4 linked regions of the Homo sapiens genome follow. The protein of the gene in region 1 purifies or fractionates together with the protein of each later gene. This does not show direct contact. Each region holds a gene or a part of one and is shown on either strand. Other genes may lie near its edges. The genes, in order: NOP10, NAF1, SHQ1 and DCAF4.

Region 1 (7,266 bases):
AGGAGTTTGAGATCAGCCTGACCAACAAGGTGAAACCTTGTTTCTACTAAAAATACAAAAATTAGCCAGGCATGGTGGTGTGCGCCTGTAGTCCTAGCTACTCGGGAGGCTGAGGCAGGAGAATAGCTTGAACCCAGGAGGCGGAGGTTGCAGTGAACCAAGATGGCGCCACTGCACTCCAGCCTGGGGTACAAGAGCAAAACTCCATCTCAAAAAAAAAGAAAGACCCAGGCCAGGTGTGGTGACTCATGCCTGTAATCCCAGCACTTTGGGAGGCTGAGGTGGGTGGATCACTTGAGGTGAGGAGTTTGAGACCAGCTTGGCCGACATGGCGAAACCCTGTCACTACTAAAAGAAATACAAAAATTAGCCAGGTGTGGTGGCGTGCACCTGTAATCCCAGTTACTTGGGAAGCTGAGGCAGGAGAATTGCTTGAACCTGGGAGACGGAGGTTGTAGTCAGCCAAGGCTGCACCCCTGCACTCCAGCCTGGACAACAGATCTAGACTCTGTCTCAAAAGAAAAAAAAAGAAAGGCCCACCACTAAATCAATTTGAGTTCAAAGATAAGTTAATCAGGAGAAAAATCAGACTAAACAGGTTAAGTAACTTTCTCAAAGTTATACAAAAAGCAAATACTGGTCTTCTGACTTTCAATTCACTGACCTCTGTCTGTAATATGCCTATTACTTTTACAAGTACTCTTCCATTTTTAATCAAAATCTTATTTCAAGGGACAAGAAATTACGTTAAGTGACAACAGAGGTATTTTTCAGTGAATGCTGACAGCTGTGAAAGTCTTAATCTTTCTTCCCCAATACCCTCCTATCATGAACAGCACATGACCACTCTTGCAACAGCAGGACTGAAGTTTTTCTTCCAAGTGGTATTGTTGCAACTCTCTGGGGTACTCTCCTTTATCATCTCCCTCCCTTTAAAAAAATACTGCCAATCCTTTCCTCCAACAACTCACAAAATAAGAGTTTTTCAAATCATTTTATCTTTAATAATCTTGTAGTAATTTAAAATATGAGAAAAAAAAGTCAAATGTGTTCCCTTTATGGGTGATGCCACCATGATTGCCTCACACAAGCATAATCAATCGCCACGAGAGACTGGATGCCAAAGAGTATGGCTGGCAAAAAGGCATCAGGGCTCACAGTCCGAAGAGTTTGGTTACGGAGTCTCCGAGGGGTAACAGGTGGCAGAAAAGACATCAGTTTAAGGGACCCTCAGAGGACAGGGCGCGGTTGCTGGGTCATGAGCACCTTGAAGCGTTTCTTGATGGTGATTCGGTGTCGAGAGTATTTGTCATCTGGGGAGAACCGAGCAGGATGGGCTGAGCAGGTCTGTTGTCCCATCGGGTCAAATTTCTGCTCCAGGAACACAGAATGTATGTCAGTACAGGAGTGATGAAATGGGGTGGGGCCAGCGCGAAAAAGGGCAAACATGAAAATAGAAGATGCAATGGTCAACTCAAAAAGTTGTACAAATAAATAGAGAAATATAAAATTTAAAAAGGCCGAGCGCGGTGGCTCACGCCTGTAATCCTGGCACTTTGGGAGGTCGAGGCGGGAGGATGGTTTGAGACCAGCCTGGGCAATATGGCGAAACCTCGTCTCTACAACAAACAAACAAACAAAACCAACCAACCAAACAAAAAACCCCAAAACCAAAAATTAGCCGGGTATGGTGGCGCACGCCTGTAGTCCCAACTACTCGGGAGGCTGAGGCAGAAGGATTGTTTGAGCCCAGGAGGCGGAGGTTGCAGTGAGCCGAGACCGCACCACCGCACTACAGCCTAGGCAACAAAGCGAGTCCCTGTCTTTAAAAAAAAAAAAAAAAAAAAAAAGGAAAAGTGAGTGCAATGGCGCTATCCCGGCTCACTGCAACCTCTGCCTCCCGGGTTTAAGCGATTCTCCTGTCTCAGCCTCCCGAGTAGCTGGGATAACAGGCGCACACCGCCATGCCCGGCTAATTTTTTGTATTTTAGTAGAAACGGAGTTTCACAGTGTTGCCCAGAATGGTCGCGAACTCCTGAGCTAAGGCAATCCACCCGCCTCGGCCTCCCAAAGTGCTAGGATTACAGGCGGGAGCCACTGCGCCCCGCCAGAATTTTTTCTTTTAATTAAAAAATGAGTCGCGCGGTCCCGGTTCTTCCCCACCTCGGTTCTGGACTTTCTGGTTCCCCGCACCCAGCTAGGTAACTCCACGTATGACCTCACCCACTCCTCCCATCTACATTTCTCGCCATGCCTATTTACACCCTGTTTTCTCTCCTCACCTTCAGCGTATAGACTCGATCTCCCTGCTCGTTGAGGTAATACTGGAGAAACATGATCGCTTATAAGCCAGCGGTCCCAATTCGGTCCACCGCTCAGTCTGCAGTGGTCCGCCCGACCGCGTCACGTGTTCGTCAATTTCCTTCCTGCATAACCGGAAGTCTCTCTCTCCTGGCACTCCGGAAAATGTAGTCAATTTTTGCCTTGTTTTCAGCTAGCCAGAAGGGGGCGCACGAGAGCAGGGCTTGGCTTGGGGCCCTACTTGCAACTTTGCAGGCTAAAACACGTGGAGTGTCCCTACTGTGTGCTAGGTACACGGCGTTAGAGGGGGGTAGGGATGGATGTGGATAGAATATTGACGTATAGAAGCCTGTCTTTGTCTCAAGATACACACCCATTTCAGGAGCAGTGAGTTTTCAATGCCTGAAGAAACAAGGGCTCCAGGATTCAGAGCCCCTTTACCCTAGGGAAGAAAGAAGAGGTTTTCTTCCCTCCCCTCTTTTACATCCAGTTCCCCTGCTCCATTTCAAAGCGTTGGCGGTAAAGAATGCATGTTGAGTATCAATATTCCGTAAAGCGAAAGAGCGTAAAGTTATTTTATGAAACTGGTGAAGCATGTTTCAGCGGTCGAACCAAGATTTAAAGTTAGGTCCCTACCGCAAATTCAGCGCTCTTTCTTATGGTGGTGAGTAGCTAATAATAACGTAATAAAGTGCACCTTCTAGGAGTTTTTACAATTTTTAAAAGAATATAGAAGTTCTCCTTATAAGACTCTCGTTTAAAGAAATGAAAATGAGAACCAAAATATCATTACAAAGATCATCGTTACGCCATTATTTACAATGACAAAAGCATTGGAATATATATTAACTGTGTAACCAGAAAAACCTGCACTTTTTTTTTTTTTTTTTTAAGAATATGGTTTGGCGGGGCGCGGTGGCTCACGCCTGTAATCCCAACACTGGGAGGCTGAGGCAGGCAGATCACAGGTCAAGGGTTCGAGACCAGCCTGGCCAATCTGGCGAAACCCCGTCTCTACTAAAAATACAGAAAAATTAGCCGGGCGTGGTGGTGGGCGCCTGTAGTCCCAGCTACTTCAGAGGCTGAGGCAGGAGAATCATTTGAGCCGGGGAGGCAGAGGTTGCAGCGAGCTGAGATAGCACCACTGCACTCCAGCCTGGGTCCGTCTTAAAGAAAAAAAAATATGGTTTGTGGCTGGGCGCGGTGGCTCACGCCTGTAATCCCAGCACTTTGGGAGGCTGAGACGGGTGGATCACAAGGTCAGGAGTTCGAGACCAGCCTGGCCAATATGGTGAAACCCCCAAAAATACAAAAATTAGCGGGGCGTGGTGGCGGGCACCTGTAGTCCCAGCTACTCGGGAGGCTGAGGCAGGAGAATCACTTGAACCCAGGAGGCGGAGGTTGCAGTGAGCCAAGATCACGCCACTGCACTCCAGCCTGGGCGACAGAGCGAGATCCTGTCTCAAAAAAAAAAAAAAAAAAAAAAGAATATGGTTTGTATTTACTTGTAGTTGCATAAAAAATCTCTGCAAGTATTCACAAGAAACAGATGATACTGGTTTCCTCTGGGATAGAGAACTTAGTTGCAGGAGAAAGGGGTAAGGGTTGGGAGGCAGACTTATTGCTATGTATTTTATTACGCAGTTTGATTTTTGAACCTTGCTAATGTATTTATTACCTGTTAAAAATTTTTTAAAGGCCGGGCACGGTGGCTCACGCCTAGTAATCCCAGCACTTTGGGAGGCTGAGGCGGGCGGATCATGAGGTCAGGAGATCGAGACTATCCTGGCTAACACAGTGAAACCCCGTCTCTACTAAAAATACAAAAAATTAGCCGGGCATGGTGGTGGGTGCCTGTAGTCCCAGCTACTCAGGAGGGTGAGGCAGGACAATGGCGTGAACCCGGAAGGCGGAGCTTGCAGTGAGCAGAGATCACGCCACTGCACTACAGCCTGGGTGACAGAGCGAGACTCTGTTTAAAAAAAAAAATTTAAATCTAAGTAGTTAATTTTGTTAGAAAGGAAAATGATGATTTTAGCCTTCAGGTCTTTAGAAAAGAGAAAAGATATCTCAGAGGAAGCAAGAAAGATGCCATGAACCCCAGGGAAGGCCTTTTGGGGGAAATCCACGTTTGGATGAAGCTGTGGCTGTAGAGGATGCTCTGGGAGTTACTGGCCTGAAATAGTCGCCAGGAACCTTAGCAGATAAATTTTATTTTTAAAGTTTAAACCAAAATAATTTAACAAAAAGAAGGACTTTCTACTCTTGAAATTTTAAACTGCATGGCAGCTTTTTTATTTAGTGAGGCTTTTCAGCAAAGGGTAAGGCGTCTGTGGAGTACAGAGCCTATGTTAGTAGATTGGACAGCTTTCCAAGGAAATGATGTGCACACAGCAATCGAGCACCTTGGATCATCTGACAATTCTAATTTTAAACTTTAGTTCCCTTGATCCTTACGTGTATAGACCAATGTACTCTGAATTTAGTTCAGAAAATATAGCCATCATTGAATTAAGTCAGGGGTCTACAGTCAACCTGCTGTTAATAGGAAGTCAGTTACAGAACTGGCTGGGATGGAAGGACACAAAATGAGATATGTTGGTGAAGAATCGAAGTGTAGTGAACCAAACGGTAAAACTGTAATGTGTTGGGAATCTGAGAAAAAGTTTACAAATAGCCCTAAAGAGGCAAACATCAATTGTGTTGCCAAACTGTAGTTTGAAGGGAATTCCTGGTTTTTTCATACTTACTAGAACCCTTCATGGAATATCTGTCCCCACCCTCACCCCACTTTTCCCTCTCCCCTCCCCCACAGCAGAATGCCTTGAGTTCCGTATTCTAGTTCTGTGTGATCTGATCTTTACCTTCCCTTCCTTGGATCCCTGTGCACCTACTGGAGCCAGGTTACTCTGGGTCCTGGACCTGACTGCCTCATTCTGGAGGCTTCCAGACAGCCACAGTTAGTGCCCAAACCTGAGAGGATGGCTTCAGATGGAGGTAAGTCTGCAGGTGGTGAGGAGGATTTCTGGTACCTGCTCATATCCTTTGAGACAAGCTCTCTGGGCTGACCTAAAGGAATGTGAGGTGCTACACCCCGTCAAAGGTATCACACTTGGGGAGGCTAGGGAAGGAGATTGTACCTTTAAGACTAGGGGCTGGGGAAGGAAGAGGACTTCCTTAAGGACAGATTAAGGTGTCTCTGAGGACACATGCTGAGTATAGAGAAAGGATGGCAATTAGCAACTTGATTCTCTTGAACAGGGGACACTTCCGCATGTGTTTTTGTGGTGGGAGAGAGGATCAGGGGTATGTGTCTTAGGACTGGCACAGAGAGGTTTCAAGGGGGAAGGCCCAAGTTCATCTGTCTTTTTTAGGCAACTGGAGCCTGTTCTAGGATTTTGCCATGCTTGAGCTTATGAGGGGAAGGGGATGTGGAGGATGGAGGATGGGAGGGTAAGGTGGGAAGGACCTTAGTGGGAAAAGATAATCTGTAGTTATCTGTTGCAGAGAAATGCCTTCCTGAAAACTAGGCTGGAATGTATTATAAACTGCCTCTGCTTGGGCCGGGTGCGGTGGCTCATGCCTGTAATCCCAGCACTTTAGGAGGTCGAGGCGGGTGGATTACCTGAGGTCAGGTTTTTGAGACCAGCCTGGCCAACATGGCGTAAACCCCGTATGTCCTAAAAATACAAAAATTAGCTGGATGTGGTGGTTCGTGCCTGTAATCCCAGCTACTTGCGGGGCTGAGGCAGGAGAATCACTTGAACCCAGGAGGCGGAGGTTGCAGTGAGCTAAGATCGTGCTGCTGCACTCCAGAATGGGCCACAGAGCAAGACTCCATCTAAAAAAAAAAAAAAAAAAAAAAAAAAGCAGCACTTAGAGGCAGTGATGGCTTGGGCTTGTCTCTTCTTGGCAGATAGGGGTCTGTGTGTCTTGTTGAAAAAGAAGCAACTTCTTTAATGCAGTCATTCTCAACGAGAAGTAAGATCAAAATCACTTGGGGGACATTTGCAAACTATGCAAGTTCCCCATCCATATCCCCTCTTTCACCTGTTGAGAATCAGTGCTTTGAGTCTTCGGGTCTAAAGAAGAACTCAGATGGGGTGTGGTGGCTCACACCAGTTATCTCTGCACTTTGGAAGGCTGAGGCAGGAGGATCACTTGAGGCCAGGAGTCTGAGCCTAGCCTAGGCAACATAGCGAGACGTCATCTCTACAATTTTTCTTTTTTTTTTTTTGAGACAGAGTTTTCCTTTGTCACCGAGGCTGGAGCACAGAGGCGCAATCTCAGCTCACTGCAGCCTCAACTTCTTGGGCTCAAGCGATCCTCCCACCCCAGCCCCCCAAGTAGTTGGGACTACAGGTGCATGCCACCGCACCTGGCTTATTTTCGTATTTTTAATGGAGACAGGGTTTTGCCATGTTGCCCAGGCTGGTCTCAAACTCCTGGAGTCAAGCAATCCTTCCACCTTGGCCTCCCAAAGTGCTGGGATTACAGATATGAACCACCGTGCCCGGCCTCTACAAAAAAATTTAAAAATAAAGGAGGAATTCACCTGTAATCCCAGCACTTTGGGAGGCCGAAGCAGGCGGATCACAAGGTCAGGAGATCGAGACCAACCTGGCTAACACGGTGAAACCCCGTCTCTATTAAAAATACAAAAAGTTAGCCGGGCGTGGTGGTGGGCGTCTGTAGTCCCAGCTACACAGGAGGCTGAGGCAGGAGAATGGCATGAACCTAGGAGGCGGAGATTGCAGTGAGCCGAGATTGTGCCACTGCACTCCAGCCTGGGCGACAGAGCGAGACTCCATCTCAAAAAATAAAAATAAAAATAAAAATAAAAATAAAAATAAAAAAATGGGGAATTCAGATGGCTAACTCTGGTCTTCTTTTCTCCTACTCCATTTCTTCTTTTTCTTTGTCTCAACAGCATCTGCATTGCCGGGACCGGATATGAGCATGAAA
Region 2 (7,532 bases), on another chromosome or scaffold:
ATTTGGGGAACTGCATGCACTCTATATCTTCTCTGCTTGTCAGTTATTTTTCCCAGCAGATCCTACATTATAGCTGTACCACGTTGTTGTTACAGTGTGTGTTAACCTCTGTGTGTGATAGGAATCCTTGGAGATCTTGTAGCAAAAATATAATGACTTTGAGTAAAAAATGGTGAGTATTATCACCTAGAGCCAAGTGAAAGGATACCTAGAAAACCACTTCTCAATGACAGGGCAAGTATAAAGCATCAGTTGGATTAAATTTTTATATGAACACCTACAGAATATATACTAGTTTTAAAGATATAAAGAAAGCTGCTTGCCCACCTCATAGTAAAGGTCTCAGGTGCTACTTTTCCAAATTCAGTTTCTTATACTCTCCTTACAATCTATTACTTCCTTTGCTTTTATCTTGAATCAGGTAGTATGGAAGTTCCAGAATCCCCTAAGTTGGGTGGAATGACCAAGAAGGGATATGGGTGCCTCCTATGGAGCTGTATGAGGAGAAGTGGGCCGGCCTGAGCCTTGCTGTGTCTTAAGTTGCTCTTTACAGTTTAGCTCTCAGGTGTTAGTCAATCTAAACTCTACACTCAGAGGCTAATGGTTATTTAAAATATTGTTAAATTCCTCTTTTCTACTCTGGATTAGCCAAATTGCTTATGTGAACTTGGTCAAGTTTTCCTGTAACATACCTATTAGTATTGGCTCATGCCACATACTGTCTATTGTATGGCTTCCTGTTATCTACTGCCTGTGATGTTGTTTTACTTAAAACTTTATAATGATTTCATTATAGTTGTGGCTCATAAACACTTCAGAACCTAGGAACAGTCAACTAAAATACTATGCTTTGCTTTTGTCCAAGAATTTTGAATGTCACTTATATTTTAGTTCAAACCATACTGCACAGACCTGAAGTTGGCAAGGAATTTTTCCACTGAAATTGTTTTTCACACTTAGGAAATGGATTCATGCTATCTAGGAAACAAATCCCTGGGAAACAGTCTGTGTACCAGGTTGCAAACGATGATTATTTTACCTTGTATTAATGGATACACAGGAAACTTAAAAGATATTTTTAAATCTCTGACCAAATGAAGAATTGGGTTTGTGTATATGTGAGAGAATTAAACTTGTGAATTGTTTTTAAGACAATTTTAAGTGAAAGTAAGACTACAATAATATATGTCATGTAGGCCAGTAAGAGTGGTGCTGAGTGCACCTCTTCTGTCCTTCACAGTTCTTACTGGACGAGGTCTACTGGATTTATCTAAACCTTTTCAAAGCAGATGTCTTGCTATTTTCTTAAAGTTTTTTGCTTTTACACTTTTTTAAAGCTTTAAATTTGTGATGCTATTAGTGTTATTTCATAATACATTGGCATTTTAATAGTTTTTAATGTCACTACTTCTTTTTAGAGTACACATATCTTCAGAATGGTGGTGCCCTGATAGGTGAGCTGTTTTACGCCTTAATGAAAATTAATGAAAGATTCAGTGCTGTACTGAAATCATAAAATGTGAAGAGCATTTACTATCAAAAATCAAGAACTGAGGATGTGATAAAACAGCCATGTTCAATGCAGTTGGTATAAATTGGTCCAAGCTATTTAGAAAGCTATTTAGTAATTTCCATTAAAACTTTTATGCCTTAGTGTTAATTATCGTACTTTCAGCTTCAATACCTCCACTCCTTACAAATCAATTTTTAGGAAGTCTGAAGTATAGTGATTTATATATGTTTATCATGGCATCATGTATTATGTTGAACAAATTGGAAGCTGCCTAAATGTCCTACAATAAGAAAGAAGTTAAGTAAGTTGTCCTGAGTCTGTAAAGGGGTGTTTTATGATAGCTAAAATTATACTTACAAAGAATATAACATGGAACAACTTTAGGTTTTTAAAAGGGGGCAGTATACAAAACTACAGTATGGTCTTAAAGAAAAAAATAACGTATTATAGAAAAAAGACTGGAAAAATCTATACTGGCATTGATCATGGTCTTATCTCTATAATATACATATATTATCTCGCTTTTGTCCCCCAGGCTGTAGTGCGATGGCACAATCTCGGTTCACTGCAACCTCTGCCTCCTGGGTTGAAGTGATTCTCTTGCCTCAGCCCCTGAGTGGCTGGGATTACAGGTGCCTGCCACCACACCCGGCTAATTTTTGTATTTTTAGTAGAGACAGAGTTTCACTATGTTGGCCAGGCTGGTCTTGAACCCCTGACCTCAGGTGATCCGCCCGCCTCACCTCCTAAAGTGCTGGGATTACAGGCGTGAGCCACTGCGCCCAGCCAGAAAATATATTTTTTAATTCACGTATTTTGAGAAGAAAGTACAATTTGAAACCAAGAAGTTTCCTTTCATTATTCTTAAAACGTTTTCAGAAGTAAAATATGTGGTTCTGCTAAAAGCAGTTCTTTTAGTTAAATGTTAAAGGCTGCACCATCTTTGTGTTTTTTAAACATAAATAACTTCTACTTTATTAGTTGTTAAATTAGAAAAAGTCTGTAATTTTACAAAATTCCTAACACTGTGGAAACAGCAAAAGTGATTTAACTCCTATTGAAGTCAGAAGCTTGCTTTTATATTTCCCATCTGATGATTCCAAATGTATACAGTTTTCTCAAAAGTTACCAATTATAATCCTTTTCTGTGTACTTTACAAGTTAAATGAGCAATAATTTAAAAAAATCATAATTTGCATCGAGTTGGTACCATCAAAATGATTTGAATTTGGTGAGGAACAAACTTGTTACTATTGTTTCACATTCATAGAAGGGAAATCTGGAATGAGCGAGTGCATTTTAATCAATATATGAAGACTGAATATGTAAAAATGACATAAATATAACTAAAAAATTATTTTATTGCCCTAACACTGACAAAATTACCTTGTTCTGGCAATTATCAGTGGGATTTTTAAAAGAAAACACTGCTGACTTTTCAAATAGTTATTTTACATGTTAAAAGAGGCCTTTATGTTTCTATTACAGATATTCGAGATATTTGGACCTGTTGCACATCCATTTTATGTGTTACGGTTTAATTCTTCAGATCACATTGAGAGTAAAGGTATTAAAATAAAGGAGACTATGTATTTTGCTCCATCAATGAAAGATTTCACTCAATATATATTCACAGAAAAACTAAAACAGTAAGTACTTTACCGGCATGTTGTTCTTCACTTACCTAACGTTTATATTTTAAGAATAATTCTCAGTGATGTAATTTCTTACAGTTATATTGTGTGTGTCTTGCAAAGAGTTCATTTATCTTCCTAATAATATCTTTGAAGCCTACAATTTATTTTCAGATTTTGTACGTAGAATTCATATCTTTTGTAAAAAATGAGATGATCAGCCATTAAGAGCACATTTGAGCCATGTACACTTTCTGATTCTAGTTCAGTGTTTTTTCCATTATGTACATTCTTTAATGTACTTACTATTTTAGTATTAGTACTAATATTATTATCATTTCTTAATAACTTTTTTTTCAGTTAAGTAAAATTCTCTTTGGATTCTATTTAGGGGCCTTGCTCTTCAATAAAACTTTAAAATAGTTTTCAAGAGAAAAAAAATGAGTGTTATCTCTTTATTTTGCTTATAAATTTTAAGTTTGTAGAAGAGACAACTAACACGTGTCCCTGAAAAATTGTGTAGAAAGTTACGGTGTATGGAGTTGACCTAACCAACAAACCAGTGCTCTCCATTTTGTCTATCAATAATGCTAAGTGATTTCTGTGGCATGTGACCGCAATATTTTTTTATATTTGTGCTCCCATTGGTTGAATATTTTTCAAATGTTAGCTGTTGCCAGCTGTTAGTTGTAGAGCTGTTTGTATCAGCTAAACTTGTTATAATTATGTTATTTAATTTTTTATATCAGCAAATAGCATATGAATTTAAGATTTTTTTTTAATAAAAATAACTTGAATGCTTTCGAATGATGTAATGAATATGAGCCACTAAAAATATTTTCAAATTGGGAGTGGAAGAAAAGACTGCCAAAGACTGGGGGAAGGTTAAATCCAGAAAGACTTTGCACTCAGTTTGACACAGAAGTTCCTTTTAGTTCTAGCTCTTCTTTTATTGGAGACTTAAAACCTAGGCGATACATTTTTATAGATGTTGTTTTTGCAGGAAAACAAAGGAACTTTGGTCACTGAGTAACTTTGGTATTATGTCAAAGGTACCAACCCCAGTTGCATGGCATAAGAAGATTACTTATACCACTTACATGTTAAATCAAGTCTCAAGTCACCAAATTTCATTTATTTCAGAGATGAAAATTTTGATCCTGATAATTGATTTAACTCATGTTTAAGAATCTACATAAAGATCTGGAGGAATATTTTGCCTAAGTTATTCTTCACATTGCATAAGGTTATTTTCTTAAATAACACTGACAAGAAAGATGAATTAAATACACATAAAGTCTTCAAGATATTAATATGTTCTAAAATGCTTTAAATATTTAGCATTTCATCCTGCTTTGAATATAAAGATACTGCTGTGGATATGCCATATATTTAGCTTTTTAACAAATAGAGTATTTTAGCTTAAAACAGATAAATTTGAAGAGGTTTTCTGAAGATGGTTTTTAAATAGATTTTAGATAATAGACTCAGTCTTTGGTTTTGATTTGCAGTTCTTCTATTAAGAAGCAGTAGTAAATCAGTGAATTGGGAAATTAGACCTATATTGCAGAAACCTCCCTCTCCCAGGAAAACTGTTGTATTCTAGACCTCATTTTGGCATCTGTCATGGGAACTTGGTGGAGTACTTTGTCTTTGAGGTAGAGAAGTTCAGCTCCTTTCCAGCTTACTGTTCTCTAATGAGGCTATTTTGATCTTAGTTTCTCATGTACTTACTGTCTTGTTAAAAGTGCCTTTTGAAATGTTGCTTGATCTTTCCTTTAGTAGATTTTGATTTTTTGTAATAGACGCACTAGTTGGGGAATTTTTCCCATTTATGTCTGTGATTCCAGGCTAACAGCAGTCCAGATCATGAGATGTCATATGTGCAGAAAGGAATACCAGAGATATATTTAAGGCCCATGTGTGAAATGACAATTGAGGAAATGCTTTTTTCTTTTAAGTGATGGAAAAGCCATTGATAATGGCTCATATATAATGTCAAAGTTCCGAATCAAAAATTTAAAGCAAACTTAATAACTTTCATGTTGTGCCAGCAAACTGACATCTGTACATTGATTTTAATGGCCTTAATTCCTGGGAATCTCATTTATTTTTGAGATCTAGTTTAAAACAATAAGGACATCTAGTCCTAATACTTTGTAATATTTTACTTTGTGATATTTTAACATAATGGAATAACAAAATAGTAGCTGAAACTATGAAATTAACAAAATTAAAAAGATTAAAAATGAGCTTTCACAAATTATACTGCTCATAATAGATATCTGTACTTTTGTTGGATGTAAAGTGTAAAACTCTCCACCAAAAGTTGTTGATTTTCAGCTGCAATTACACATTTCACACATGCCAGTCATTATATTGTCCTTCAGAATCTTTAAAGCAGCTTCTCTTCCTCTTCCTCCAACTATTCATAGTTAGCCTTTGTTTGACCCTCACTGCTTTGAGAATCAGTGTTGGAATAAGCCTTGGTTACTCATAGAGGATTGCTGACATTCCTCAGGTAAACTGAGGAGAAAATAATTCATATTGATATCTCTGCCATTAAACCTGTAAAATCTGTGAAAAGGGAATGCCTCATAGTCATTTTTATGTCCTTCGCACATGGAACAACTTCTGATCTACAGTTGGCGTGAAATAAGCATTTTTTTTAAACTGAGTTTTGTGAAAACTGCAAATATTATGAAAACAAAAATCAAAAGAGCTGTCCATCTGCTTTCCACTGCACACCATAGCCTTGGCTTCTCATTCCAGTTCCCTAATCCTAATATTTCTACTTGCTCAACTTTTGTGTTTTTCTTAGGAGCTTCCCACATCTTTTGAAATAAGGTAAAAGACACATAACTGTATTGCAAAATTAAAGGTTGAACTCATGTCCTTTACTTTATTATTTTCTGTACTTTTAAGTTATGAGCACTTAATAGAATTGTGATGAATACTTTTTTGACTCCCATCCCCACCCCACTCAGGGATAAGGGATCAGATGCATCATGGAAGAATGATCAGGAACCACCACCAGAGGTAAGTATAAGTCTTTTTATGCAACATTTTATAAAGTAGGGCAGGACTTAATCTTATAAATTTTATCATTCTTGCTGTTAGGGAAGTCATTAATACTGGCTAGCAGCCATACTGCCTTATCCTGTCCTAGCGCATGTATTCTCTCACCGTCCTAGATGACTATTTCATACCTTTCAGTGAAAGGTTTTGATTGATCATTTAGGAAAAAAACTTTTTTCAGTTACATTTAGTTGTATTTTAATAATTATCACCTTATCATTTACATTGTAGTTTACTATTTTTGTCAACTTTGTTGATGTCTGATAAAGGCAGGCTGTCATTATTTTTTAAAAATTTAATTGAGTTTAGTAAATACACCATATGGGACATGAAGACATGGTGCTTTTAATAGCTGTCCTTCTTTTGGAAGTACAGAATCATTGGAAGCACAAGATCATTGGAAGCTACCTACCTCTCTACTTTTTACGATATAACTACCTTTCTAAAAAGAGACCTTGATTTTCTTTTTGTATCTATGTCAGCAAAACAATAGTTTTATGCCCCAAGGTGACTTGATAATCTAGTCTTCCTAGAGATGTGAAGTAAATTTAGGAATAATATGTAAATAAGTTAATGATTTAATAGGATTACTTGGTTAACATTCCATGAAAGTGTTTAAGCAGATTATCTTGAGGGGTTTTTTTTTTGAATTACAACAATGAATATATTCATTTCTTAAAAATAGCATGTATTTATACAGTATAAAATAAAAATGTATATAAATATTTTTATAAGTAAAAATTATACATGAGAGTTTTTAAAGCTTGCTCAGCAGTTCTTATGAAGTTTTCTCAGTATTACAGTTTTTTTTTTGTTTTTTTTTTTTTTAACAAATATAGACATGGGGGTCTCAGTGTGTTGCCCAGGCTGGTCTCAAGCTCTTGGCCTCAAGTGATTCTCCAGCCCTCAAGCAAGCTTCTGCCTTGGCTCCCCAAAGTGCTGGGATTACAGGCATGAGCCCCTTGCCCAGCCAGTATTACAGATTTTTGATACTTACCGATTTAACCTTGGCCATTTTAGATGTTTAAAGCAATCGTAAATCATGATCTGTGTTTCTAATTTTACTGAGGTATGAATCAGGTTTATGCCCACTTGGAGGGTTCTATACAGGTATGAATCACTTAACCAGTGAATGATCCTTGCTTAGTATCTGAATTGAAATGGAATTATGTTTTCTAATTAATGTTATGTATTTATGTGATTTCAGTTAAGGCTCTGAATATTCACTTAATGTTCTGAATTAAGTTTTAGAGTATCTATAGCATCTTATTACTGGAATTACATGTTTTAAACGTGTTTAGAGATTC
Region 3 (7,532 bases), on another chromosome or scaffold:
GTTTTCCCAAATGCTCAGTTGTTTTTCCCCTACATTAGGGAATATTCATTCAAATTGTTTAGAAAAGCAATGCTCTTGCAATTAAAATTTGAAGAAGAGTTTAATGATTTTAGATGATTAAGCCATTTTAAAAGCTTAGAATAATAAACATTAAATTCAGTGGTTCATTTCCTTTTTTATTTTTTTGAGATGTAGTCTCACTCTGTCACCCAGACTGGATGGAGTGCAGTGGCGCAATCTCGGCTCCCTGCAACCTCTGCCTCCTGGGTTCAAGCGATTCTCCTGCCAGCCTCCAAAATGGCTGGGATTACAGGCATGCGCCACCACGCTCAGCTAATTTTTGTATTTTTAAGTAGAGACAGGGTTTTGCCATGTTGGCTAGACTGGTCTCAAACTCCTGACCCGCCTGCCTCAGCCTCCCAAAGTGCTGGAATTACAGGTGTGAGCCACTGCACCCAGCCACAGTGGTTTATTTCTGATGGGAAACAGAGGGATGTAAACAAAAAGGGATTAGACAGGAGTCAACTATATTGGTTAATGTTTAATGTTTTTAACCTAAGTAATAGATGTCTAGGTATTTGATACATTAGTTAAGACATCCAAAAAGAAAGTATAGCAGCTTAAAAAAAAAAAAAAACCTAAATTATTAAGTGAACATTTTCAAGATACAAGAATTTCTGACCTAAAAGGCACTCATTCTAGGCTCACATTATGGCATTCCTACAACATCTCAGCAACCTGTCAGAAATCTTTCAAAAGGATTTTCCGTAAACAGAAGCAACAATTAAGTAACAAATCCCTGGCCTCAAAGAAGCACTTCTAATGTAAATGTAAAATCCATACTTAGCCTGTGTGACATTTATTATCATTCATGTACAGCGTTAGATTGGCAAGCCCAAAACAGCCTGACCACAAACTATCTCTTGGCCAACAATTGAGGGCCATTCACTGTAGTTCCTGCTACAGACAAAACTGACTCTACTCTAATTACCTCTGAGATCACCAGCGATTGTGATCAAGCAGAGAATATGGGCAGACCACAACTCAGCAGAAAAACACCTAAGTTTTTAGAAGGAAGGCTATTTCACCAGCATTTGCTCCTAAGTAAATCTCAATGTTGTTCCCTTTAAGGAATTTTGAGACCATTTTATATTTTTCAAAGGCAGGAGTCTTTACAGCATTCTACACTTTCCAAAGAGTTTTCACATGCATTATCTTTTTAAATTTTCAAGACAGCCTTATAAAGTAGGTGGGCAAATTTATCTCCACTTTCCAAAGAGGAGACAAAACTTACTTGTGGTCAAATAACTGGCCTGGTATCCCAAATCTTAACAGAGGTAGGAGCGGGACCAGAACCCAGGTCTTTTCCCTCTCCTTCGTAAATTCAAATATGTCTTAAGATAATAAACCACATTCTAAACAGGTTTTGTTTTGTTGTGTTTGTTCTTTGAGACAGAGTCTCACACTGTTGCCCAGGCTGGAGTGCAGTGGCGAGATCTCAGCTCACTGCAACCTCTGCTTCCCGGGTTCAAGGGATTCTCCTGCCTCAGCCTCCTGAGTAGCTGGGACTACAGGTGGGTGCCACCATGCCTGGCTAATTTTTTGTATTTTTAGTAGAGATGGGGTTTCACCGTGTTAGCCAAGATGGTCACGAGCTCCTGACCTCGTGATCCACCCGCCTCAGCCTCCCAAACTGCTGGGATTACACGCACCACCACATCCGGCTAATTTGGCCAACATGGCAAAACTCCATCTCTACTAAAAATAGAAAAATTAGCCAGGCGTGGTGATGGGCGCCTGTAATCCCAGCTACTTGGGAGGCTGAGGCAGGACAATCACTTGGACCCGGGAGGCAGAGGTTGCAGTGAGCCAAGATCGTGCCACTGCACTCCAGCAAAGTGAGACTCTGTCTTAAAAAAAAAAAAAAAAAAAAAAAGAATAAATAAACAATAGGCTGGTCACAGTGGCTCATGCCTATAATCCCAGAACTTTGGGAGGCCAAGGCAGGCAAATCACTTGAGTTTGAGACCATCCTGGCCAACATGGTAAAACCCCATCTCCGCAAAAAATACAAAAACTAGCCAGGCGTGGTGGTAGGCACCTGTAATCCCAGCTACTCAGGAGGCTGAGGCAGAAGAATTGCTTGAACCCTAGAGGCAGAGGCTGCCATCAGCCGAGATCGTGCCACTGCACTGCACTCCAGCCTTGGCGACAGGGTAAGACTCCGTCTCAAAAAAAAAAAAAAAAAGAGAATAGAAAATGGTGCCTACTATACACCAAGAATTAGACAATTTGATCAAAACACACAATCTCATTCTCGCCAGGAACATTCTATTTCATTTATATACAGAAAAGAAGAGACATCATGCCGTAAGTACATGATCTCACTTTTCAGAAGTATAAAACATAAAGCTTTGCAGGAAGTATGAGAGAGGAGTTCTGCTTTGTACTTGGGAAACTTCATGTCTAGAATACTGAATAAAGGGGAGAAAAAAGAAAGCCACGGGGTGTCTGTAAGAGCAGTACAGTTAGGCAGAACAGCCAATGAAATGGAAGGGAATGCACATCTATGTACTTTAGCTGTGCTAAGTGCTTTAAATACAATCACCTCCTGTAATATTATTTTTAAAAACTACCAAGTGTAAGCATAACTGAAATTAAAATATCCAAATGGAAAAACCCTATAGATCAAGATCTTTCAGAAAGACAACATACCTGTAACCGTTGCAACACTCCTGATCGTAAGTTTCCAAATCCATAGTGGCACTGCGGATTCAAAGCACTTTCTGATACCTCTTCACAGGGTGTCTGCTCAATTTCCCAATCAAACTCTTCATCGTCAACTACTTCCTCAGGAATCTCAGAAGCACCTGAATGTGTTAAATTTTAATTTTTTTTAAGTATTGGATTTAAGTACAACTAGGGGAAGAAAAAGTATAGGAAAAAATGCCCACAAAGATGTACCAAAAGACATATACCAAATGTACTAAAAGAATATTCATAGCTCCGCTATTCGTGACAGCAAAAAAAAAAAAAGAACCAAAAATGTGGTATGTTCATACAATGGAATATTACAGAGCAATGAAAGCAAACGAATCTCAGCTAGAATATGAATAAATCTCACAAAAATAATGTTAAGTGAAAGCAGCCAGACAAAAAGAACACATACTGTATGATCTACATATGCAACGTAAAAACAGGCAAAACAGAGGATAGTGGTTACCCTGGAGAGAGGGCAAAGTAATGGAAGAATACAGGATGGTATTCTTCGGGTGTTGGAAATGCTCCATTTCTTGACAGAGGTGGTGTTCACTTTACATCAGTGGTTCCCAAACTTTTTGGCACCAGAGACCGGATTTGTGGAAGACAACTTTTCCACAGATCAAAGAGGTAAAGAGATAGTTTTGGGGGATGAAACTGTTCTACCTCAGATCATCAGGCTTTAGATTCTCATAGGGAGCACACAACCTAGACCCTTCGCAGGCACAGTTCACAGTAAGTTCATGCTCCTATGAGAATCTAATCTGATCTGACAGGAGCCAGAGCTCAGGCAGTAATACTCCTGGCCCTCCGCTCACCTCCTGTTGTGCAGCCAGGTTCCTAACGGGCCATGGATCAGTACTGGTCTGCAACCTGAGGGTTGGGGACCCCTGTTTTACGTAACTCACTTAACTGTATACTTCTGATCTTAGCTCAAGATGCTAATATTTTGCCAACCACAAAATGTTGTTTCAATTGGTCCAAAAATGTGAGTGATCTGGTTCAATAGGATTTTTAATGTCTTAATTATATCACCAAAGAAGCTATTTTCATATGGTTTCACATGATCACCTTATACCTGAAGTATTTTCTTCAATTTCCTATTCACTATATCCCATTTCCCCTACAAATACACAGCATTCCAAATATTTCTATTTATCCTAATTTCCTCCCAACTGTAATAAACATACCTATTTCTTCCACAAGTGGTTTTGCTGTCCTGGATTTTCTTGGTGCCAGAAGAGCAGTTAACATGTTCAGCCCCTCAAAATGCTGGCCAGGGGTTTCTTTGGGCAGGCGAATGGTAAAAATTCCTTAAAGATAAATTTGTTTTATGCTTAGATTAAAATATTTAAAAAGCTGGGCACAATAGCTTACACCAGTAATCCCAATACTCTGGCAGTCTGAGGCAGGAGGATCATTTTAGCCCAGGAGTTCAAGACCAGCCTGGGCAACATACCAAGACCCCATCTCTACAGAAAATAATAATAAAATCATTTTAATTAAAAGAAAAAAATAAATAAATAAAATAGTCAAAGACTTCACAAATATATCTGAGAAATACATGTCTTGGTAAAACATAATTCTATTTTACAGGCTCTAAAACTATGCCCTCATAGATTTGGTGAATACAAGTCAAGATAGAAAAAGGTTCTTAACAAGGGTTTTTCAGAAGCTGTCATTTCTATCAAAAATTATTAATCTGGCTGGGTAAGGTGGCTCACGCCTGTAATACCAGCACTTCGGGAGGCCGAGGCAGGCGGATCATGAGGTCAAGAGATCAACACCATCCTGGCCAACATGGTGAAACCCCATCTCTACTAAAAAATACAAAAATTAGCTGGGAGTGGTGGCATGTGCACCTGTAGTCCCAGCTACTTGGGAGGCTGAGGCAGGATAATCGCTTGAACCCAGGAGGAAGAGGTTGCTGTGAGCCGAGATCGCGCCACTGCACTCCAGCCTGGGCAACAGAGCGAGATTCTGTCTCAAAAAAAAAAAAAAAAATTATTTATCTGTGAAAGCTACAGAATACTTTAGTCTTATACAGTATGACCTTTACCTACTGATAATATTAAAAATCCAAGTTAAAACTTATAAAAATCAATGGCCTAAGAAGGTAATAGCTTAGAATTAACCAGGAGTTACTAATTAGACTTCTGGGAAAGGAGGAAAAAATCAGAATACCTAATCCAATGGAGAATGGCAACAGTTTTAAAAATACACAGAATCTTAGATACAACAATTATGGCTTAATAAGGTTTTCTGGCATGTCAGGAGATCTATCCCTAAAGTCTATGGCAGACTCAAATCCCTAAAGTCTATGTACTTCTTTTCTTTCCTTGACTGAGTTTATCTATCTTATTTAGGCTTCCCTGGGAACTTACTACATTATTTAGCACTTTGACATTTTAAAACATTTTGCCTCTTTCAGTGTACTGAACTGAATTCCAACATATCAAATACAACTCAGCCCAAATATCTCCGCATACACAATCTTCCTTAACTCCTGTGTACTTTAAAAATTTAATAATTTTGTTTCAATATGCAACTTACCTATAACTAAAAGCTGGTTTACTACCTAGGAAGGCAGTTTCACTATACTTCATTACACATTAATTACACTGCATTATGGGTTAGATCTCTGTCATTTAACCCACCCCCCCATACCCTACCCTTAGCCTAGTTCACTGAGGTCAATATTCATTGAATAAAGTACACAAGACTACACAAGGTGTTCTAAATCCGATGACAAAGGAAGCCAGTGGCTTCTATAAAGGAAAAATAAATGGGTTCATGGCTAGCTGAAATGAAGGGCTTATCAATCATGAGGAGAAAATTCAATTAGCCTTTAAATGCCACCCATGCATAGTTTCTCTCTCACCTACCTGTTATTAAAGTTCAAGTTTGAAAATTATACCAGAAAGATTCCATTCATAAGCTCATAAGTCATCTACATTTTTTATGATCAATCATTTCACATGTTCTAATTTTTACTTTTAAATGTCTACTAAATGTAGGGGAAGTACTCTAGGAAATAGAACCGGAGCAGTTAACTTTACTTTGAAGAACATTGTGAAATACTTTAAAAGACTTGTGAGGGGTGGGGAACATCAATAACAGGCACTGGACACTAAGAAACAAGAAAGAGTGATAGGAACAGATTGTATTTGAAAGACATCAAAAGGTCCCCATGGTATCTTGTAAGATTATTATGTAAATAATGTGAAAAATCCCAAGAAATAAACTAACAAAAATTCCAAAGACAATACCTTTATCTGCATCATAGGACCCTTGCTCACTTCCATTTTCTACAATTCTTCCAGGAAGGGTTAATCTGCAGATTTAACACAGGTCTCATGAAGTCCTTAAATTATAACGTAACATAAGTGGCCATCAATACTTGCAAACATTTAACCATCAAAATATATCAATCATTTTTTAAGAAGTTCCTCAGTATTTCTTTCACATTTTAATAAACTAAGTTAGATTCTTTCCCCAACCAAGAAAGTAGAAATTAGAGATGACTCATCTTTCTATTTGAATACCCCTAGTCACCAACAAAATAGATACTGAAAAAGAAAAGCCATAATAAATAGTAGTTATCACTATTGTTATAACACAAGTTGAGTATCCCTAATCTGAAAATCTGAAATGCTCCAAAATCTGAAACTTTTTGAGCACCAACATGACACCACAAAGTGGAAAACTCCACACTTGACCTCATGTGATGAGTCACAGTCAAAAAGCAGTCAAAACTTGGCTGCATACACAAAAGTATTAAAAAATTACATAAAACTATCTTCTGGCTATATGTATAAGGTGTATATAAAACAAATAAATTTTGTGTTTAAACTTGAGTTCCATCCTCAAGATATCTCATTATGTATGCAAAAATATTCCAAAACTCTAGAAAATCTGAAATTTCATATAAGGGACACTCAATCTGTACAGATAAGGGATACTCAATGGGAAACAATAAAGAAACACAAAACCAATTGATTTTATCAGGCAAATTACTACTTTAAAAAAAAAGCAGAAAGCAAAAGTGTCAAATCTCATCATTATTATGTAGGGATTTACCCCTCTTTTGTACTAAAAGAAATGAAGTGATTGGCTGGGCGTGGTGGCTTACGCCTGTAATCCTAGCACTTTGGGAGGCCGAGGTGGGTCGATCACCTTAGGTCAGGAGTTCAAGACCAACATGGCCAAAATGGAGAAACCCTATATCTACTAAAAATACAAAATTAGCCAGGCATAGTGGTGCACACCTGTAACCCCAGCCAGTCAGGAGGCTGAGGCAGAAGAATCACTTGAACCCAGGAAGGGGAGGTTGCAGTGAGCCGAGATCATTTGCCACTGCACTCCAGCCTGGGCAACAGAGTGAGATTCTGTGTCCAAAAAAAAAAAAAGAAAAAAGAAATGAAGTGATTTCCCTGCTTCCAGTTTTACCCTAGTTCAATCAGTCTTCCACTGAGGCTCCAAAATAATTTTTCTAAAACAGGAATCTAATTGTCACTTTTCTATTTTAAAAAGTGTCTATGGCTGCCTCATGTTGCCTAGATAATTTAAACTTATCAGAAGGGCATATCAGGCCCACTCCATATCATTCCAAACTTGAAATTTGAGCTTCCTTTCTTCCCATGGCCCTCCCCCTTGTTTCCTACTAAATATGATTAAAAACAAAAACAGCTGACAGTCCCAAAAGGCCCAGGACCTTTAATCCCAAGGTTTCCTCAAGCTTCAATACATTTTCAGAATGAAAATCCCTCTAA
Region 4 (8,493 bases), on another chromosome or scaffold:
AAAATAATGAGAACCTCACTGCTGGAGAAGGAAGCTACAAATACAGAAAGGGAGAAAACTAGAATCAGCCCTATATGATGGATTGGAATTGGAGATACTGGTGTAAACTCATGGTTTTCAAGATAGGTGGGTAAACTGATAGATGTACAAATAAATATAGATGTCACAGTGAGTGTGGGAGTGTGTGAGTGTGTGTTCCCAACTGTAACCATGAAGAGTGCCTTGGAACAGGGATACCGTAATAGCAATAAGCACACTTAGCATTCAGGTCTTGGCTTCTAAATACCAATTTCTATGACATGGAGATTAAATTCAATTGAATTAAATTGAATGGAGCTGAAGATTAGGTGACAGTGGTATATCAATGTCAATTTTTCAGTTTTGATGGCTATGCTTTGGATACATAGGAGAATGCCTATGTCTGTAAGAAATACAAACTAAAAGTATTCCAGACTGATGACACATCAAGTCAGTGGTTACCCTCAGGAAAAGAAAAAGAAAAATTCTGTAGTTGGAAGTTTTCTATTAGTTTGTGATTGTTTTCAAAAACAATTTTCTTAAAATGTACTTACATTCCCAGCACCTAGAACAGATCTGGCATTCCAAGTGCTCAATAAATATTTGTTGAATTAATAACTGAAAGATATAAACAGTTAGAACAAACACATGCTTAGAAAAAACACATCCAAATATTAACAGTGGTTTTTTTGGAGGGATAGATTTATCACAGGTAATTTGGGTATTTTTTCACTTTGTGCTTTTCTGCTTCTCAAGTTTTCTTAGATTATTATGCATTATTAACTGTTATATTGGTCAGGCTGCTAACCAGCTAAGACTAGTATTTTAGAGGCAAAATCTTGTCCCCAGATTTATGGGTTTCAACATTTTGTGTATTAAGTTATTGGGACCAGATCCTTGGAAACTGCTTGTCTACCCAAGTACACAGAATACGAATATGATCAGTTAATTATTGAGACATGTAACTTCCTGATGTCTAGAATATTCTTGCCCATTACCCACGGCTCCCTCTTTTCCAAAATCATGATAATGGAGTCAGTCATCAGCAGTTTGGTGAATACGTAATCATACAAAGAGGTGTAGAGAATTTTGTTGGGTATTTCATTAGGTTAGCAAAGGAACTAGAGGCTAGGGCGCGATGGTTCACGCCTGTAATTCCAGCACTTTGGGAGGCCAAGGCGGGTGGATCACCTGAGGTCAGGAGTTCAAGACCAGCCTGACTAACATGGTGAAACTCTGGCTGTACTAAAAATACAAAAATTAGCTGGGCGTGGTGGCGGGAGCCTGTAATCCCAGCTATTCGGGAGGCTGAGGCAGGAGAATTACTTGAACCCAGCAAGCAGAGGTTGCAGTGAGCCGAGACGGCGCCATTGCACTCCAGCCTGGGCAACAGAGCAAGACTCCATCTCAAAAAAAAAAAAAAGGAAATGAACTAGGGAATTGTTCTATATCAAGATTTTCAGTGACCAGCCAGATGCAGTGGCTCACGCTTGTAATCCCAGCACTTTGGGAGGCTGAGGCGGGCGGATCACCTGAGTTTGGGAGTTCGAGACCAGCCTGACCAACATGGAGAAACCCCATCTCTACTAAAAACACAAAATTAGCCGGGCGTGGTGGCACATGCCTGTAGTCCCAGCTACTCGGGAGGCTGAGGCAGGAGAATCACTTGAACTCAGGAGGCGAAGGTTGCAGTGAGCCAAGATCATGCCATTGCACTCCAGCTTGGGCAACAAGAGCAAAACTCCATCTCAAAAAAAAAAAAGATTAAGATTTTCAGTGACCAAGACACTCACTTGGATACTACTGAAAAAACACTGAGAAATTCTGATGAAAATGATCCTTTTTCTAGGCCCTGGATGGACTGTTACCCCACAATGGGCATGTTAATTTAATTACATTTCTCTTGCATTGATTTTATTTTGGATTAGTCTCCATGATGTGATTTGACAGGCATCCTAGTTCCTGTGGCAACTTACGTACAAGTCACCTCTTAAAATAGCCAACTCCTGCTGGGTGCAGTGGTTCACGCCTGTAATTCCAATACTTCAGGAGGCTGAGGCAGGAGGATCACTTGAGCCCAGGAGTTTGAGACCAGGCTGGGCAATATAGTAAGACCCTATCTCTATAAGAAAAAAAAGTGTTTTTTTATTTTTTTTTTTTTTATTTTTGAGATGGAGTCTTGCTCTGTTGCCCAGGCTGAAGTGCAGTGGCACGATCTCTGCTCACTGAAAGCTCCGCCTCCTGGGTTCACGCCATTCTCCTGCCTCAGCCTCCCGAGTAGCTGGGACTACAGGCGCCCGCCACCACGCCTGGCTAATTTTTTGTATTTTTAGTAGAGATGGGGTTTCACCATGTTAGCCAGGATGGTCTCGATCTCCTGACCTCATGATCCACCCACCTCTCCCTCCCAAAGTGCTGGGATTACAGGCATGACCCACCACGCCCAGCCTGTTTTTTCTTTTTTTAAAAGGACAACTTCTGCAGTTGATTTAAACAAATGTTGATTTGTTTAAATTAACATTTAAATTTTATATTTTGGGGGATGGGAGGATGTGGGGATGGCTAATGGGTACAAAAACATAGTTTGAAAGAATGAATAAGATCTAGTATTTGAAGGCCGGGTGCAGTGGTTCACGCCTGTAATCCCAGCACTTTGGGAGGCCAAGGCGGGCAGATCACCTGAGGTCAGGATTTCAAGACCAGCCTGGCCAACATGGCAAAAGCCCATCTCTACTAAAAATACAAAAAATTAGCCAGGCATGGTGGAGGGCGCCTGTAATCTCAGCTACTTGGGAGGCTGAGGCAGGAGAATAGCTTGAACCTGGGAGGCAGAGGTTGCAGTGAGCCGAGATCACGCCACTGTACTCCAGCCTGGCAACAGAGTGAGACTCCATCTCAAAACAGACAAAAAATATATATATATTGTTTTAGTCTTTGCCATGTGCCAGATATTTTCCAACCTCTTTCTATAGATTCATTCCTTTTCATTACAACATTTGCCTTGGCTTCAAATTCTGGAGATGAAATGAAAAAATAATTTTTACTTTTGAAGGTAATATACACCATCTAGATACCATGCTACCTTTATAATCGCGGGTGCTTAACCAATGGGCGCTGTGCACCAAGTCCTGGGTGAGGTACTCCATCATCAGCGCTTACTCCTTACAACCTTTCTCAGTAGATGTCTTATCCTCATTCTAATCTGTGAAGAAACTGAGGTTGGAATGCCTCATGACTTGCCCAAGGCCCAGCAAGCTTCATTTGTTCACTGATTTGCAAACATTCTTTAATCTTTCATCTGTGTGTGTTGCAGGTCCCCGAGGTATATCTCATGCCCACGTCACTGTCCCCTCTGTGGACATTCAACAGAGCCTGCTGGCCGGCTGCCAGCCACTCATTGACTCAGCAAGCCCAAGCCAACTCCTCCTGCCACCTTCCTCAAGTGTCCCCTGGCTCTTCAGTGGAAAATCCAGCTTGACTCCTCCCCGAGAGTTAAGTCTGGCCGATTCTCCCTCTGAATTCTGCCTCCCATCTGTACCCCCCTTCCATCCTGGCTACCCCCACCCTGGTTTGGCCCTCACTACCTTTCACAAGGACTGTTGCTGCAATAAGTTCCTTAGGGGTCTCCCAGCTGACTTCCACAATCTTTTCTCCCCAACCCCCTACACGGTGATTTCCCAGAAGCACAGCTCTAGTCCTGTCACTTCCCAACTCTAGAACCCTCAGAGCCTCCCATTGTCTACTTTTTTTTTTCTTGAGACAGGGTCTCACTCTGTCACCCAGGCTGGAGTGCAATGGCGCTATCTCGGCTCACTGCAACCCCCGCCTCCCGGGTTCAAGCAATTCTCCTGCCTCAGCCTCCTGAGTAGCTGGGATTACAGGCGCCCGCCACCACGCCCGGCTAATTTTTTGTATTTTTAGTAGAGTTGGGGGTTTCGCCATGTTGGCCAGGCTGGTCTGGAACTCCTAGCCTCAAGTGATCCACCCGCCTCAACCTCCCAATGTGCTGGGATTTCAGGCGTGAGCCACTGCACCCGGCCTGACTACTCTTTCCCTGGCAATTGCTGCGTCACCAAGCCCCAACCCACCCTGCTGAGTTTTCCTTCCAAGACTCCCCTCCCATCCAGCCGGCTTGAACCGGCCTCCAGTCACGTTGTTTGTTCAGCTAGAATTTTTCTCTGCCTTCTCTTCAAGGCCGCTCAAGCTTCATGAAGCGGTTCTTTATTCTGACTATGCCCACTTCTCTCATTTCCCTCATCACCCGGCCCCGCTCCACATACTGCATTTATCTATAAACTCCTGAGAGCCAGGAGTTTAGCCTGAAATCCTAGCTTCCTGGTTAAGAGCTGAAATGCCTTCGCACGGCGTGCAATGGGTGAACCCCACCGCCTGCTTTCTAACGGGTCCAAGCCGCGGGCAGGGGCCTGTGTTACGGAGCCGCATGACACACCAGGCCTACTGCTGGACCCCAACAAGCCTAGCCTCTGTGAATCCAGCTGTCCTCACAAACTGTCTCTTCGGGACACAAGCCCATCAGAGGCTTCCGTTTTCCTTTCATAAGATCTCATAACCGTCAGCTGATACCTGGGACAGGCACAGCACACATAGGTCATTCTAGAAATATTGGTGGTCTGAACAAACTCTAAGCTGGAGAGGACATGAGAATGATAGATCCGATTCCTTCTCTCAACAGAAGAAATCAAGGCACAGAGAAGGGAAGAGACTCGCCCTAGGTCCCACAGCAAGCAGCAGTACTGGAGCCAACACGGAGGCCCCCCGGTTTCACGGTCAGGGCTCGCTACGCTACACCCTGAACGCAGACCCAGGGCAGCGGCCTCGGCCGCCTGAGGCCACTGCCGAAGACTTCGCCGCCAGTCGTAACATCACGTTACTTCTGTCCCTCGCCTCACAGACTCCTTCGCTCTTTCCACTACAGCGAGAGGACTTCTCCAGGGCCGCATCACCCTGCGGAGGGAGGAAGACACGGTCTCTCACGAAAGGGTCTCCAGACAGTTCCGCTGCTCCGGGAGCAGCCCCCGGCCCCGCCCCCGCGTGCGCCTGGCCCCACCCCCAAGCGCTCCATGACCAGCCTCCACGTGCATCCGCCCCAGACAGGCCAGGCCTGGGAGGAGCCGAAGCCCCACTCCCCGCCTTCTTCATGAGATCGTCCCTATTGACGTCGACAGACAGAAGCCGCGTCCAGTGAGAAGGAAAGAACGGCCGCTATAGCCCTATCGGCTGCTACAACACCAAAACGCATCCACCTAACTGGCTGACGCTACACCTTGGTCTTTCCGGGTCCTTGCACGCTTCGCTCCAACTCCTGCAGAGCTGAGCCGGAGGGGAATCCGGAAGGGACACGCTGAACAGGTAAGACTGTGCTGCCTGGGGTGCCTACTGGCATCGATTCGAGGGCTGCCGCGCTCCCGCTGCAGAGCTCGGGGTGGGAGACAGGCGCGGCGAGGAAGGCCAGGGAAAGGGGCGGGGAGGGGCGGGGAGGAGTGAGCACGTGGAACGCCGGCGCCACCGGGCCTAGGTGGCAGCTGGGCCGGCGCGCTCCGCCCGTTCTGGGGCGCGTGGGGCCCTCCGGCCGGATCAGTGCTGCAACCGTAAACACGCAGGGAGGGCACCCCGAGTGTCGCCGCTGAGGGCGTTTCTCTAAGCGCTTCTCTGAGACCTGCTGCTGAAGGCCCCACCCGACACCTGGCGGGGGCTGGGCTGCGGGCCTTGGGGCGGTGTCCCCTGTGAATGTTCAGGTCAGCATAACAGGTTAGGTGTGGTTGAAGCTTACGAAGTGGCCGGCTCTGTGCTGCCGGCTTCACAGGCGCTAACATTTGCCAGCGCTATGATGTCCTTGTCAGACGCAGAAAGGGGTGCAGTTTGGTTGTCCGTCGGGGTAGCGCACAACTAGCAAGTGATGGGGCCTGGGTTTGGCCCTCGCCTCCACTCTGAGTTGTGAGTTAGCGAGAAAGCCACGCCTCGTGGGCTCCCCGGGGGCTTCAGAAACCATGACGCCTTTCACCATGGTGTTCTACAGGCATTGTCTTGTGACTCCAGCAGCGCAGCCAGAAGCAAAGAAAACTGAGGGGACGGCTTCCTAGAGGAAACAATTCCAAAGTCCCAAACTCTGATTTTAAATAACGATGGAAATTAGAGTCGCGGTGGTGTTCTTTTTTTTTTTTTTTTTTTTTTTTTTTTGAGGCGGAGTCTCGCTGTCGCCCAGGCTGGAGTGCAGTGGCACGATCTCGACTCACTGCAGCCTCCGCCCCCGGGGTTCACGCCATTCTCCTGCCTCAGCTTCCCGCGTAGCTGGGGCTACAGGCGACCACCACCTCGCCCGGCTAATTTTTTGTATTTTTAGTAGAGACGGGGTTTCACCGTGTTAGCCAGGATGGTCTCGATCTCCTGACCTCGTGATCCGCCCGCCTCGGCCTCCCAAAGTGCTGGGATTACAGGCGTGAGCCACCGCGCCCGGCCTGAGGTGGTGTTCTGTGGGTAACCAGGCCTGGGGGTCCTACCAACAGAGGTGGAATCCCTGTTCCACCATTTAACTTACGCTGGGTGTGGTACCTAGTCCTGTAAGCCTGTTTCCTCATTTGTAAAATAGGATTGAAAATACCAACTCAGGGTGGGCGTTAGTACAAAGCTTGCGCCTGAAGTATTTCTTAAATAAGTGTTAAGAGAAAATTTTGTTGTTTTTTAAGTCAGCTGTCTAAAATGTTGTTTTACAGTGAACAACTCCTAACTGCTGGGATTATAGGCATGCACCACCACACCCGGCTAATTTTTAAATTATTTGTTAAGATGGGGCGGAGGGGTGTCTCACTATGTTGCCCAGGCTGGTCTTGAACTCCTGGGCTCAAGCTATCCTCCCACCTCAGCCTCCCAAAGTGCTGGGATTAGAGGCGTGAGCCACCGCCCTGGCCTGTAGAAGCTACTTTGTATTCAGCTTTACAGACCAGTGGCGTTAGCGTTTTGCACATTACAGCCCGCTAGTCTACAGAATCCCCCCACTTTTTTTTTTTTTTTTTTTTTTTGATACGGAATTTCACTATTGTTGCCCAGGCTGGAGCACAGTGGCGCGATCTCGGCTCACCGCAACCTCCGCCTCCCAGGTTTAAGGGATTCTCCTGCTTCAGCCTCCCGAGTAGCTGAGACTACGGGCGCACGCCACCGCGCCCGGCTAACTTTTTGTATTTTAGTAGAGACAGGTTTTCACCATGTTGGCCAGGATGGTCTCACATATCTGCCGACCTCGTGATCCGCCCGCCTCGGCCTCCCAAAGTGCTGGGATTACAGGCATGAGCCACCGCGCCCGGCCAGTCTACAGACTCTTACAAAATTCCCCTGTTGTTGGATATCTAGGATGTTTCTCACTTTAACTATTACAGCATGGTGTAGTAAACATCCTTTATATATATATATATATATATATATATATATAGTTCACATACCCTAAAATTAACTTTTTTAAAAGGGTTCAATCCAGTGGGTTTTTTTATTATTATATTGGCAAGATTGTGCAACCATCACCACTGTCTAATTCTGGAACATTCTCATCCACCCAAGAAGCAACCCCGCGGCCCCAGGGTGCCCCAGTCTCAGAGCCCCGGTTGTTGGGCTCCAGTCCAGGCCCCCTAACCATGTGCTAAACAAGATGGTGAGGCTCAGCCTGGAAACCAGAACAGCCCCGAGGCCCCCAAACTGGAGAGCCCCAAGGGGAGATGGAGCCCCTCCCCCATTCTGAGTTTTGGCCCCGTGCTAAGGCTGGACCGACCCCCTGTGCTGTCAAGCCTACCTCCCAGGGGAGGCGAGGCCAGCCCCGATGTGTGCGGGCTGCCATCCCCCACACTTGGCTCCGGGGCTGGTCGGTGTTGGGCGTCCCAGCACTGCGGGCGGCACGGACGCCCGGGGCTGCTCCCTACTGGGTGTAGCGCACCCCGCCCCCCACCCCGCCCGGCCTCCTCTGGGCCTGCGCCTTGGGCCTATTGAGGCCAGGCCTGGAATGGTGCCCTGGAAGCAGGAAAGAGCCTGTAATTCCGGAAGCTGCGGGCTCCCAAACCAGACACCATTTTGGAGACCGGTGCAAAAATGTGTGCCGCTTTTGTGTGGAAAACTGCTAGACTGTGAGAGAGAGCCGACCTCCTCATGCATGAACCTTTATAGAGGGTGGTCCACATATTCTGTGCACTACATACACATACGCTGGGCACATACTGGCTCTCTGTGTTAAATCTCAGATTTGCTGCCGCGCGTGGTGGCTCACGCCTGTCATCCCAACGCTGCGCCAAGGCAGGAGGATCGCTGGAGGCCAGAAATTCGAGACCAGCCTGGGCGGCAACAAAGCGAGACCCCGTCTCTACAAAAATATTTTTTATTTTTATTTTATTTTTCCGTCAAGCTGTTCTTTATTTCAGGAAGAGGGCAGGGGAGGGGGCTCAGTCTTTCTTGGCAGCGGCTTTCCTCATGGCAGCC

Evidence for each region.
Region 2: the proteins of NOP10 (region 1) and NAF1 purify together in Homo sapiens (co-immunoprecipitation; 6 studies listed by BioGRID and IntAct, with this or other methods). This does not show direct contact.
Region 3: the proteins of NOP10 (region 1) and SHQ1 purify together in Homo sapiens (co-immunoprecipitation; 2 studies listed by BioGRID and IntAct, with this or other methods). This does not show direct contact.
Region 4: the proteins of NOP10 (region 1) and DCAF4 purify together in Homo sapiens (co-immunoprecipitation; 2 studies listed by BioGRID and IntAct, with this or other methods). This does not show direct contact.

What each region holds. Positions count from the first base shown.
Region 1 is NC_000015.10:34,340,738-34,348,003, forward strand, and holds NOP10 (H/ACA ribonucleoprotein complex subunit 3), read right to left. Parts: upstream 2,400-7,266; 5' UTR 2,337-2,399; coding exon 2,283-2,336; intron 1,372-2,282; coding exon 1,231-1,371; 3' UTR 982-1,230; downstream 1-981. Other genes in the region: NUTM1 (NUT family member 1), read left to right, coding at 2,960-2,965, 5,205-5,298, 7,232-7,266. UniProt on the Homo sapiens protein: Required for ribosome biogenesis and telomere maintenance. Part of the H/ACA small nucleolar ribonucleoprotein (H/ACA snoRNP) complex, which catalyzes pseudouridylation of rRNA.
Region 2 is NC_000004.12:163,135,853-163,143,384, reverse strand, and holds part of NAF1 (H/ACA ribonucleoprotein complex non-core subunit NAF1), read left to right. Parts: intron 1-3,001; coding exon 3,002-3,162; intron 3,163-6,134; coding exon 6,135-6,186; intron 6,187-7,532. UniProt on the Homo sapiens protein: RNA-binding protein required for the maturation of box H/ACA snoRNPs complex and ribosome biogenesis.
Region 3 is NC_000003.12:72,838,330-72,845,861, forward strand, and holds part of SHQ1 (protein SHQ1 homolog), read right to left. Parts: intron 6,095-7,532; coding exon 6,030-6,094; intron 4,074-6,029; coding exon 3,951-4,073; intron 2,871-3,950; coding exon 2,716-2,870; intron 1-2,715. UniProt on the Homo sapiens protein: Required for the quantitative accumulation of H/ACA ribonucleoproteins (RNPs), including telomerase, probably through the stabilization of DKC1, from the time of its synthesis until its association with NOP10, NHP2, and NAF1 at the nascent H/ACA RNA.
Region 4 is NC_000014.9:72,921,156-72,929,648, forward strand, and holds the start of DCAF4 (DDB1- and CUL4-associated factor 4), read left to right. Parts: upstream 1-5,308; 5' UTR 5,309-5,388; intron 5,389-5,615; exon of another isoform or gene 5,616-5,774; intron 5,775-8,409; exon of another isoform or gene 8,410-8,493. UniProt on the Homo sapiens protein: May function as a substrate receptor for CUL4-DDB1 E3 ubiquitin-protein ligase complex.